Homo sapiens: one gene and its partners. The protein of the gene in region 3 purifies or fractionates together with the protein of the main gene of each other region. This does not show direct contact. Each region holds a gene or a part of one and is shown on either strand. Other genes may lie near its edges. The genes, in order: TEX264, NCAPD3 and MYOF.

Evidence for each region.
Region 1: the proteins of MYOF (region 3) and TEX264 purify together in Homo sapiens (co-immunoprecipitation; one large-scale study listed by IntAct). This does not show direct contact.
Region 2: the proteins of MYOF (region 3) and NCAPD3 purify together in Homo sapiens (co-immunoprecipitation; one large-scale study listed by IntAct). This does not show direct contact.

Annotation. Positions count from the first base shown.
Region 1 is NC_000003.12:51,684,737-51,688,386, forward strand, and holds part of TEX264 (testis-expressed protein 264), read left to right. Parts: intron 1-78; coding exon of another isoform or gene 79-138; exon of another isoform or gene 139-3,650. UniProt on the Homo sapiens protein: Major reticulophagy (also called ER-phagy) receptor that acts independently of other candidate reticulophagy receptors to remodel subdomains of the endoplasmic reticulum into autophagosomes upon nutrient stress, which then fuse with lysosomes for endoplasmic reticulum turnover.
Region 2 is NC_000011.10:134,157,968-134,161,617, reverse strand, and holds part of NCAPD3 (condensin-2 complex subunit D3), read left to right. Parts: intron 1-1,543; coding exon 1,544-1,726; intron 1,727-3,122; coding exon 3,123-3,289; intron 3,290-3,550; coding exon 3,551-3,650.
Region 3 is NC_000010.11:93,377,696-93,381,345, forward strand, and holds part of MYOF (myoferlin), read right to left. Parts: coding exon 3,524-3,650; intron 2,293-3,523; coding exon 2,168-2,292; intron 1-2,167. UniProt on the Homo sapiens protein: Calcium/phospholipid-binding protein that plays a role in the plasmalemma repair mechanism of endothelial cells that permits rapid resealing of membranes disrupted by mechanical stress. Involved in endocytic recycling.

The DNA of each region.
Region 1 (3,650 bases), on a different chromosome or scaffold from region 3:
GCAGCACCCTGGGGCCCTCATGGAACAGGTACCTGTGGAGCTAGGAAGATGGGCAGAGGTTGTTGGCATCTCTTTCAGATGCCCAAGATCTTTTGGAAGCCGGAGCATATCCCAAGAGCATGGAGAACTTGTTCATAAATCTGATCTGGTTAGTTTGGCTCTGGCTTTGACCAAAGACATCCATAGTGCTTATCCCACACTCCTGGCTCAGATGAATGGACAGGCCACTTTATTCTCATCCTGCTGGAGGCCTGCAAAGCAAGGACCTGAGGCTCCCAGTGTCTGGGCAGGCCCCAGGTAATCATGTATTGCCCGTGGCCCTGCCTGTGCATGGGCTTATACATCTGCTCCCAGAGGCCAGGGCTGGGACAGCAGTGGCAGGCTCTGTTTCCTTTACTTCCTGACTTGGTTACTGGCAATGCTGGCAGCCCAACCTTCCTGGAGGAAGGAGAGCCAGTCACCTGGTCATCTGACGGGTTTCTGTGTCTACAGAAATTTTTTTAAAACTTGCCCTGTTACACATCCCTCCTCCCCTAAACGTTTTGTAAACTTGGTTGCTAGGGAAATGACCCCAGTTTGGGCTTGGACGTGATTGTTCATTCATTTAACTTGTATTTATAGTCTGTGTGCCAGGTGCTATAATGGGCACAATGTGAATGAAACGTTGGTGCATGAAACAGCCATTCACAGTGAGGTGGTGAAGATAGGTAATAAATATCAGACAAAAATAGGACGTGTGCTAGAGAAGGAGAGGGTGAGAAAAGTCAGGGAACCAACTTGGACAGAATGGTCAGGGACAGCCTCTCAGAGGAGATAACCTCAAGGCAGAGTCCTAGAAGAGCCTTTAGAGAGGAGATAAGAACTTCTAGTCAGAGCTTTGGTCTAAATGCAGCAGGAAGTCACTGCAGTGTTCCAACCAGGAAAATAACACAGTTGGAGCCACGTCTGTACAAGATGAGCTGTCCCATCTCTGGGCAGGGTGGGACTGGACCACAGATCTGGGACCAGGTGGAGATGCTTAGGCCTGGGGCTAAGGAATTAGCCTAGGAGGCTGTCATGAATCCCATTGTGAGTGGTGGCAGCTTGGGCAGGCCCAGCGGCTATAGAGCTGTGGACAAGGATGGAGATTTACAATCACTTTTGGGATAGAACTGATAGACTTTGGGTGGATTCACTGTTGTGGAAGGAGAGGCAGTGAGGGAGTCACAGAGGGCTCTGCTCCCCTCTGGCCTGGGCAGGTGGGCAAGTATGTAGTGATGCTTTCACTGACATGTGGGGAACTGAGGGAGGCCCTGGTTTTGGGGGGAAGGTAGCTATTTGGGCTATGTCAGGGGAGCTGCCTGAGATACATCTAAGTTGGGGGGTGTGGAGTCAGCAATGGTATGTGTGGCCTGGAGTTGAGGAAAGGCTGGGCTGGTGGATATATTTGGGGACATCAGCCTGTTGGCAGTATTTGACCTGGGAGGCTGCCCTGTGCCTCCCTGCCTCTGTGGGACCAGGTAGGCAGTGGACAGCCTGTGGCAGCAAAGGCTGCGCAGAGGGCGTGGCCAGTGTGGCAGGGGTCAGGGAACAGGACGAGAGTCAGTGGGAGTGAGAGCCTGGTACACTTGGAGGATCCTTGCAACTTTGTTCACCAAAGCAGCTTGGGGAAAGGGACACAGCGTTGATGATGGAAATGGGAGTTCAGATGTCCCTGGAGTCTGGTGTTGGGGCTGAGGAATGAATAAATGAGGCCCTGGGTCACCAGCTGTGTCCTTGGCGGTCAAAGACAGGTTTGAAGAATCAGGAGTGAGAAGACCTGGAAAGGGGAGGGCTGTCACGGTGATAAGGCAAGGGCACAGGGAGAATAGAGGGGAGTTTCCTTTGTGAGCTGGAGGGTGGTGGCCAAAAGGGGTGTGGGGCAGGATGTGCTTGCCTGGCTGCGGTTGGACTGGAGGTGGGGGCGGGCTGGCTGGTGGTGTGGGCAGGAAGGAAGATACCAGTGCCCTAGGCCTGCTTAGTGTGCTGCCTCTGGGGAGTCCCGCCCCATTTCATTCAAGGAAGGCCTCTCCAGTCCTGTCGGTGCCATCCTCAACCTCATGGGCCCATCTGGAGGGGCACCCCTGGGAAAGAGACTTCTTGGGTTCCAGACCTCAGAACAGGACATGTGGCATGTGGTGTGGTGGTGAGCAACTCAGCCACCAAAGCCTTTTCCTGGCTTCAGGGGTTTATTTTTAGACACCTTTGTCCAAATTTCCCGGCCCCTGACAGCTTCACAAGTTGCCTGGTTTTGACGTCACCTCTTTGATGAAAGCCCTTCCTCCTTCCTCCCCGCTCCCATGGGAGCCTGTCAGCTGTGCTCCTGGAGTGGGGGTTGAGACAAGGAAGCCAGTGATATGGGGGAGAGCAAGGGGCTTCTCCCAGAGACAGGTGTGAGGCATGCTTGTGTGGGCTTGGCCATCAGCGGGGAGAGTAAGATAGAGGCCGGCTGCCCACAGAAGAGGCATGGCCGAAGGTCCTGGGCTTGTTTTGGCAGCAGGGTGTGGGGGTTGCCTCTGCCCCTGTGTTTAGCCTGACCTTGCGTCTTGGGGAACAAAGCCAGGGGAGAGATGAGGAAGGGGCTAGCTCTGTTTGCTGGTCACAGCCTGCAGTGGACAGGGGTGGCCCTGTGCCTCTCTCAGCCCAGGAGACAGCAAGGAGAGAGTATAAGGCTCCCTTCCATCCCTGCCTTCATCTCCCCTGCCCTGAGGTCAGAGAAAGGAGATTACTAATGAGACTAGTTGCGTCTCACTCTTCTAGCACCGACAGCTTTTAACTGTGTGTGCGTGCGCGTGTGTACACCCTTCTTTTTCTCTCTGGATCTGGGACTGCTGTGAAGGCTCTTCAAATGGAATGACAGCAGCCGTCAGCTTTCTGCTTTGGCAGGGGTGAGAGAGGCCAGGAGCCCTGCTGCCAGGAGTTGCGGGGGGAGGACTTGGCAGGCTCACCAGCCTCTCCAGAGGCTAGGTGAGGGGCAGGGGTGAATGGATCTTAGCTTCGGGTTTGGGAGGTGGAGAGCAGCTGCTGTCCCGGGAGTTGCAGATGTGCCTGAGCCTGGAACAGGATTGGTCTCATGGGACAGAGGGACCTGAAGTTCACGGCGAGAGGCCCAAGGAGAAGCACTTGTCAGGACTCTCGGGATTCTGGAAGGGATGGCTGATCTCAGCTTTCCTGGTTTGCATGGCAGCCTCTGGCTCTCTGGCTAGCCTTCCCCAGCTTGGCAGCCTGGCAAACTGCTATAGATGCTGGAACTCTGCCTTTCTCCATATAAACTGCTAAGGGCCCCCAGGCTGAACACTCATTCCCCTGGAATCCATGCGTACTGTGTGACCATCACTCCATATGGAAGATGCCTCAGCTTTGTCAGGCTGCTCCGCTGGAGTCCAAGGAGGTGGCCTCTAGTACAGGAGGAGACCACTCCCCAAGTCCCAGGAAAGGGGTATCTTCTGGAAGCTGCAGGATGGAACAGAGCTTGCTTGAAATTGCAAACCTGCAGAGGGGAGATGGGGCCCAGATGTGAGCCCAGAGCAATGGGCAGAGGCCCCCAAATTCACCAGTCTTAATGAGTGTCCAGGGAAGGCTTCGGACACATGGAACAGACCAGGACTGAGGGATGGGCCTGGGAATTCGAT
Region 2 (3,650 bases), on a different chromosome or scaffold from region 3:
GGGTTCCACCAAAGCCGCTCTTTCCCTTGGATGTGCAGCCAGGGCCGTGAAGAGCCGGCCCACTGTGCCAAGCACGTCTTCCCTTAATGGAGTTCAAGTCCATCTGGAAAACTTTCCCAGCTGGGGTCAAGAACACAGTCATCTTCGTTCATGCTGCTTGGGGGTAAGGTGAAAGTGAGTCTTCGGGTTTGATTTCAGGGTGCTTACCTTTTGCACTGACTCAGATTCACAAGGTCAGGAAATAACTGCCCTGCAGGAGCTGCCTTCGGAGCTGCCATCACCAGGCTGAATTCTTTGTCAAGCAAGGGGACCATGAGGAGCTCAGTCGGAGCAAACCCAGGATGTGTTGACTTGCAGGGCGGACCTAAGTGGGGCCTCAGACCTTTCTTGCAAAATCTTTTACTAAGAAATAAATGCAACATAGTTTTTCTTTAATTCAGCAGTTATAGCTCTGTTCACATTATGTGTTTTTCTTCCTCAAAAAAATGCTACAATTTTTTTTCCAATAAAGGCCTCAACAAAAATTACATTGAATATAAATTTTCAAATAGCTTTTTATACTAGGAAGCCAAGGTAGGAAAGATAGTCTCATTGTATGATAAAAATAAAAACTTCCAAATATTCTTGTATTTATTGCCTGACTTTAGACCCTAGAAAGGAAAAAAAAAAACAAAAACAGAGCTTTGATCCTACATAGACTACTTAAACACTTAAGAAAAATAAGCCTTCCTCCTGCTTGTGAGCACACACACAGGATGGCCACACGTTGCTTGTTGTCAGTAGCTTGAGGGAGTCTCTTCATTGGCCTGTGGAACCCACTCCTAGTGGCAGCTGGAAAAGTGCATGGATTCCTTCTCTTTGTTGAGACTTCCCTCCCAGTTGGAACTGCAGTGTCTTTTTCTCCCTATTACTGTTAGGTGGAATGATTCTTTCTCTTAGCAAAGTGGTCTTGCCCCTGGCACCCCTCTTTAAGACCTAAGAATGTTTTTCCCTAGGTATGAGAAAAGGTTTTCTGTAAAATCTTCAGAAGAAGACACAAAGATGGGATTTGAGCCTTAGTTGGAATCCCCTGAGAGCCAATGGGGAGGCTAATGTAGACAGATGAGCAGCTTTTAGATCCATGCATCCTGGGACTTGCTCCAGAGGCTGTGTCTGAGCATGTCTTTCTCCCATTGGGAACCTGGGAGAGATTGCCCATTAACTGCCACATAGCCAGGATGCTTCCTAAGAGAGAGAACTGTTAGTTACTCACATATTTTTCTGCTTGTGTGGCCAGTGGTGTTTGCTCCAAATATACCATTGTACCTGTTAGTTACTGGAATGGAAATCATCTGCTTTCAGTAATGTCAGTCCTATTGTTCCTATGATTTATCAAGCAACATGACTTGGGGGGCTTTTTTCTTTCTTAACTTTTATTTTGCGTTCAGGGGTACACGTGCAGGATGTGCAGGTTTGTTACACAGGCGAAGGTGTGTCGTGGGGGTTTAGGGCTTTACGTTTTTATTCAAGAAAACATGAAAGGATGCTCCTGGCTCTGTTTCAGGAGGTGATGCAGGATTACCGAGATGAGCTCAAGGACTTCTTTGCAGTTGACAAACAGCTGGCATCAGAGCTTGAGTATGACATGAAGAAGTACCAGGAACAGCTGGTCCAGGAGCAGGAGCTAGCAAAACATGCAGATGTGGCCGGGACGGCTGGAGGTGCTGAGGTGGCACCTGTGGCACAGGTAGGTGTGGGGCCCACTGCACTGTGACCAGACAGTCCAGTCTGCTGTCTGCTACCAGTCTGTCGTTTGTCTGGCACCTCTCAAGATCTCCGTCATCAGAGGTTAGTCAGCCCGAAGGCCTCGAGAGTGCTGCTTGTTGGCCACTCCCTCGTGCCTTTCTGTCTGTGATGGATTTACTGTGCTCCAGACCTCCCTTCCATGAGGACGTGGTGCAGGAAGCGAGCTGGCAGCAGCAGTAGCTGGTGACTATAGATCCTAGGTCTGCCAGGGTGTGTCAGTGTGTCCGCATCTTCCCCCAGCACTCCCTCTTTAGAGCAGACCGGCACACGGCCATTTCTAGGAGTAGCTGTTGCTCACCGTCCTGAGGAATGCAGGCAGATCTCTTGTAGGAAAGACCAATGAGCACAAAGTAGCATACTCCTTTTTCTCTTCTGTCATGCCACAGCATCTACAAGTGGCAGCTTTCTCATAGTATTCTGTTTCTGAAAAGGAAATTCAACTTACCCAGGGTTGATATGGCTTCAAAGTACATTACTTATGGACTTGCTCATAGTACGTGAAGATTCTATTCCAATAAAGTGTTAAAATGGAGAAAGGGAATGGCTTGTACACTGTTGGTAGGGATGGAAAGTAGAACAGCCACTATGGAGAACAGTATAGAGGTTCCAAAAAACTAAAAGTAGAGGTACCATATGAGGCAGCAGCCTCGCTGCTGACTGTATAGTCAAAAGAAAGGAAATCAGGATGTCGAAGACATACCTGCACTCCCATGTTTATTGCAGCACTGTTCACAATAGCAAAATTTGGAAACAAATGTCCATCAGTGGATGAATGGTAAAGAAAATGGGGTGCATATACAGTGGAGTACTTTTCATCTATAAAAAGTGAAATCTTGTCATCTGTTGCAACATGGATGAACTTGGAAGACATTATATTAAGTGAAATAAGCCAAACACAGAAAGACAAAGATTGTATGTTCTCATTCATATATGTGAGCCAAAAAGGTTGATCTCACGGAGTTAGAGAGTGGATTTTTGGTGATTACCAGAGGCTGGGAAGGGGTGGGAGAAGGGGGATGAAGAGAAGTTGGTTAATGGGTACCAAAATACAGTTAGATAGAAGAAATAAGTTCTAGTATTCAGTACAGTGGAGATATTACAGTTTAACAATTTACTGTATATTTCAAAGTACATAGAAGAATTGGAATGTTCCCAACACAAAGAAAAGATACTCACGTTTGAGGTGATGGAGATGCCAATTACCCTGATTTGATCATTACGTTGTCCACATGTATCAAAATCTCATATGGACCCCCAACCATGTACAACTATCATATATCCGTTTTTGAAAACTTAAAAAGTATTAGAATGTACATACTCTTTATCTTCTCTACCAGGTTGCCCTGTGTTTAGAAACAGTGCCAGTTCCTGCTGGCCAAGAAAACCCTGCCATGTCACCTGCCGTGAGCCAGCCCTGCACACCCAGGGCAAGTGCTGGCCATGTAGCAGTATCATCTCCTACACCTGAAACAGGGCCATTGCAGAGGTTGCTGCCCAAAGCCAGGTAAAGAGCCCCTGGAGGCCACATCAGGGCTGGTTCTCTGTGGCGATGTTCTCAGAGGCGTCCCTGCCATTCCCAAGCGTGGGCAGGAAAGTCATTGTCATTGTCTGGCCTGCCACCCCGCTCCACACTGTGCCCTGGGAGGTTTGAATGAGGGTGGTGAGGGATGCGCCGGTGAGGAGGCACGCGGGGACACAGTGCAGCACTGTCACCTCTGCAGTGGTCTGCAGTGAGAAAGTCAGCGGCTGTGGCTGTTCTCCACAGGCCCATGTCCCTGAGCACCATTGCAATCCTGAATTCTGTCAAGAAAGCCGTGGAGTCAAAGAGCAGGCATCGGAGTCGGAGCTTAGGAGTGCTGCCTTTC
Region 3 (3,650 bases):
TTTGTTAAAAGGCAGAAAAAAAAAACCCATAAACATATTGAACTCTAATTAGTAGGCTTATTTTTCACAGTGGTTTATCTACAGATTTTAGGATTGAACCAAGGAGTAAATATATTGAGGATAACAAAGGCCAGATTTCTCACTGTTGGAGAAGAAAGTTAGAGACATAGAAATACAGAGGACTAGGATAAACCTTGTGGTATTGGACTGGAATTGGAAGTATCTTTATGAAGTCATAGCTTTTAATATATTGATAGATATAGAAATAAATAGACATACATGTGTCTGTGCAAATTCGTTTGCTGAGAAGGCCTAGAAGCAATGATATTTCAGTAGTAGTGAGCACTGTATACCCAGATTTTGTTTCTAAAATGCTATTCCCCACTCAAAGGAAAAAGCTGCTTGGAGAAATAGCGATTTACGGACTGGGGCAGAGAAAGTACAAGATAAGCTCAAAACATATGGTTCTATTCCATTGAGCACCTGCCAACAGAGAAGTTGAGGAAGAGCCTACCATGACTGTCAAAAGTCCTAATCAGGGAAAAGGGAAAGCCACCATCCTGTCCAGATTAGGCAGCCTGGTCAGTGGAGAGAGCTGATAAGAAGAACCAGGATGAAAATTGCTGAAGAGCATCTCAAACACAATTAGAACACAGGTGCAACTAATTCTCCACAAATGCCTTTGAGATGTACATTGCCTATCAATTGCAACTTTATTTTCAGGACAGTTATGATTAAGTCAATTTAAACCTATAGTTATCCTCCCAGATTGCCTTTATAACATAAAATGATATTTCAGATTTTGCCGTCGAGTTTTAGATCAAGTATACTCCTGAAACCCCATATGTTTTGGTCCAGCCCTGGTAGAGATTAGATCTTTAAAAAATTAATATTAACATAATGTTGAAATCAAAACACCAATGCCAGATGGATTTTAGCACTACCTGATAGGAGTAACTTAGTATATGTGTATATGTGTGTGTGTATGTGTGTGTGTGTATATATATATATATATATATATGTATATATTTATCTTTTTAGACAGAGTCTCAATTTGTCCAGGCTGGAGTGCAATGGCGCCATCTTGGCTCACTGCAACCTCCGTCTCCCGGGTTCAAGTGATTCTCCTGTCTCAGCCACCCTAGTAGCTGGGATTATAGGCTCACATCACCATGCCCAGGTAATTTCTTTTGTATTTTTAGTAGAGACAGGGTTTCACCATGCTGGCCAGGCTGGTCTCTAACTCCTGATCTCAAATGATCTGCCCACCTTGGTATCCCAAAGTGCTGGGATTACTGGCGTGAGCCACTGCACCTGGCCCAAGTAACTTAGTATTTTTGCTTAATTAGAAATATCACAGACATATCCCCCTTCTCCTCACCAATCTAGTTGACCAATGTCAACTAGACAGATAATCACAGATATCATATGTATGCAGTTTTCACCCAAGGAAATCCCCAACCTCCAAACAAAAGAAGTTCCTCTAGTCTGCAGCAAGAGTGGAATGTGTCAGACACTGGTTCCTCAAAGCTACCTCTTCCTGCAGTGGAGATTTCCACTGCAAAGTTCTCAGAGTTTCATATTGCTATTGGAATGAACCATTCTCTCTACACAAAAATTACGGCAGAAACTATGAGTTCCTGTTCCACCCCACTCCTACCTTTTTAATCCTCCCCTCTTCCAAAGTAAGAAAATTTTTATCTGGGCATATGCCTGCCCAGGCATAAGACTAACATTTTCCACCTTCGTTGGAGTCACATGTGGCTGTATGACTGGATTCTGGCCAGTGGAAAGTGAGTAGAAATTAAGAGTATGACTTCTGCATCCTTCCCTTCAAGAGAAAGGCCTATGTCATCTTCTCCCCACTGTTTACCAGCCCTCCCCTCAGGCTGGAGGGCAGATGTAGTAGTGAGCTGCCTCTACCATGCAGACAATGATAACTCCTGAGTGATGGCAGAGCAACCGGGGGTAAGAGCCTGGGTCTCCAATACCACTGAACCTCCATACTAACTTAGGACCATCTACCTCCACTGTTCCTAGAGACATTGCTCTTACCTTATTGATCACTGTACTAAGCACTTTCTTGTGTTATAGTGGCCTGGCCTCCATCCTAATACCTAATTCACCCTGCTTGGTGAAAAGGAAATGCAGAAAAAGAGAAACTTACCAGCCGTTCTGCCATAGCTAGGAGAGTGTTCACCGCATCCAGGCGATGACTAATATCCTCCCAGTATGAAGTCAGGGTAACAACTGGCTTGGTGTGGGCCCAAGGCAAGTAATAATAGTAGTTGCCTGGTATAAAACATTGGGGGTCAATGAACACTGAACACTTAAAATAGACAGCATGTTTATTAAAGAGATGTGCAGACTGAGCTGCTGATTAATCCACAGGCTTGGGGAATAGCTTGAGGTGGTCTGGTTCTTTAATTTGACTCAATTAAGCAACTGAAGACTAGGAAGCTCTTTTTCATTCAGGCTGTTCTGAAATTTTCTCTGAGACACCCTAGTAAACTGAGCACAGCAATCTCAGGATCGTTTAGTGATTCAGGGCCATGCATCTGAACATCAAAGATGGTTTCTTAACGTGGTAGTAGAAAATACAGATGACATAGGAAGCTAGACTGAACATGTTAGTCCCTAAAAACTGTTATTCTAAATAAATGTTTTTGTTGGAACTGGGGCAAAAGAAAAGAATTTTCTGTTCTTGGAAAGCTTTAGCTGGCTACATAGGGTTTGGTACTAGAGCCTTACTGTGATTAAGAATTATTAGCTGATGTTTCCTAGGATGTCTTACATTTTAAAACTGCTTGTACAAAAATTAAGTTAAAACTCTGGCAATACTGTTGGGAAATTTGATCAGTATTCCTCTCTCCCTTCTCTGTACTCTCAAACCATTTGTTGACAGTTTTATTGGAAGTTCTCATACTTTGCTTTCTATTATGATTTATTTTATACACTAGAATGTAAGCTCCTTAAAATCAGGGACTGTTTCTCACCCATCTTTGTTCAAATACAGCTATTTAATCCTCATGTCAACTCCAGAGAAGACGAAGAAACTGAGGGTTAGAATTCAGTGACACGGTTAAGGTCACAAGCTGGTGAGTAACAGAGTGAAGACCAGAAGCATGATTTCCCAGTAGCTGATCCAGAGTCCCATTCATTTTCCACTACTCAGCCTAAGAAAGATTTGGGGCTTCGTAGGGGTAGGAGCTGCTTTGCGGAGCTCAGAACTTAGCACAGTGGCTACCTTGGGGTCTTACATGGCAAAACCATTGTTAAAGCTGGGTGGGGAGAGGGTAGCATTGGGGTTCAGCCTCTGGCAATGGGACCTGCAACTTCTTGGGTCTGGCCAGTCTTTAAGGTGCCTGAACCCCAACCACACTCTCTTCCTCATTCAACCTTTTCCTTTCCACTAACCATAGGCTGCGTAGAACAGTGCCAGAGGGAAGACACAGTGCTTGCTTCCGGTCCCGTGGTGCACCCATTGTAAACGTGTGGAGAGAACTGTTAGTGCCAATCTTACCATCAAATACAGCACGGCTGTACTGAGTTGTTGATGCCAAAGGCTTACAGGTGGTGTCAAACTTGTTGCCATAGTTCCCAATGCTGACTTCAAACTGAATGGCCTCACCAACATCTTGCAACATGGT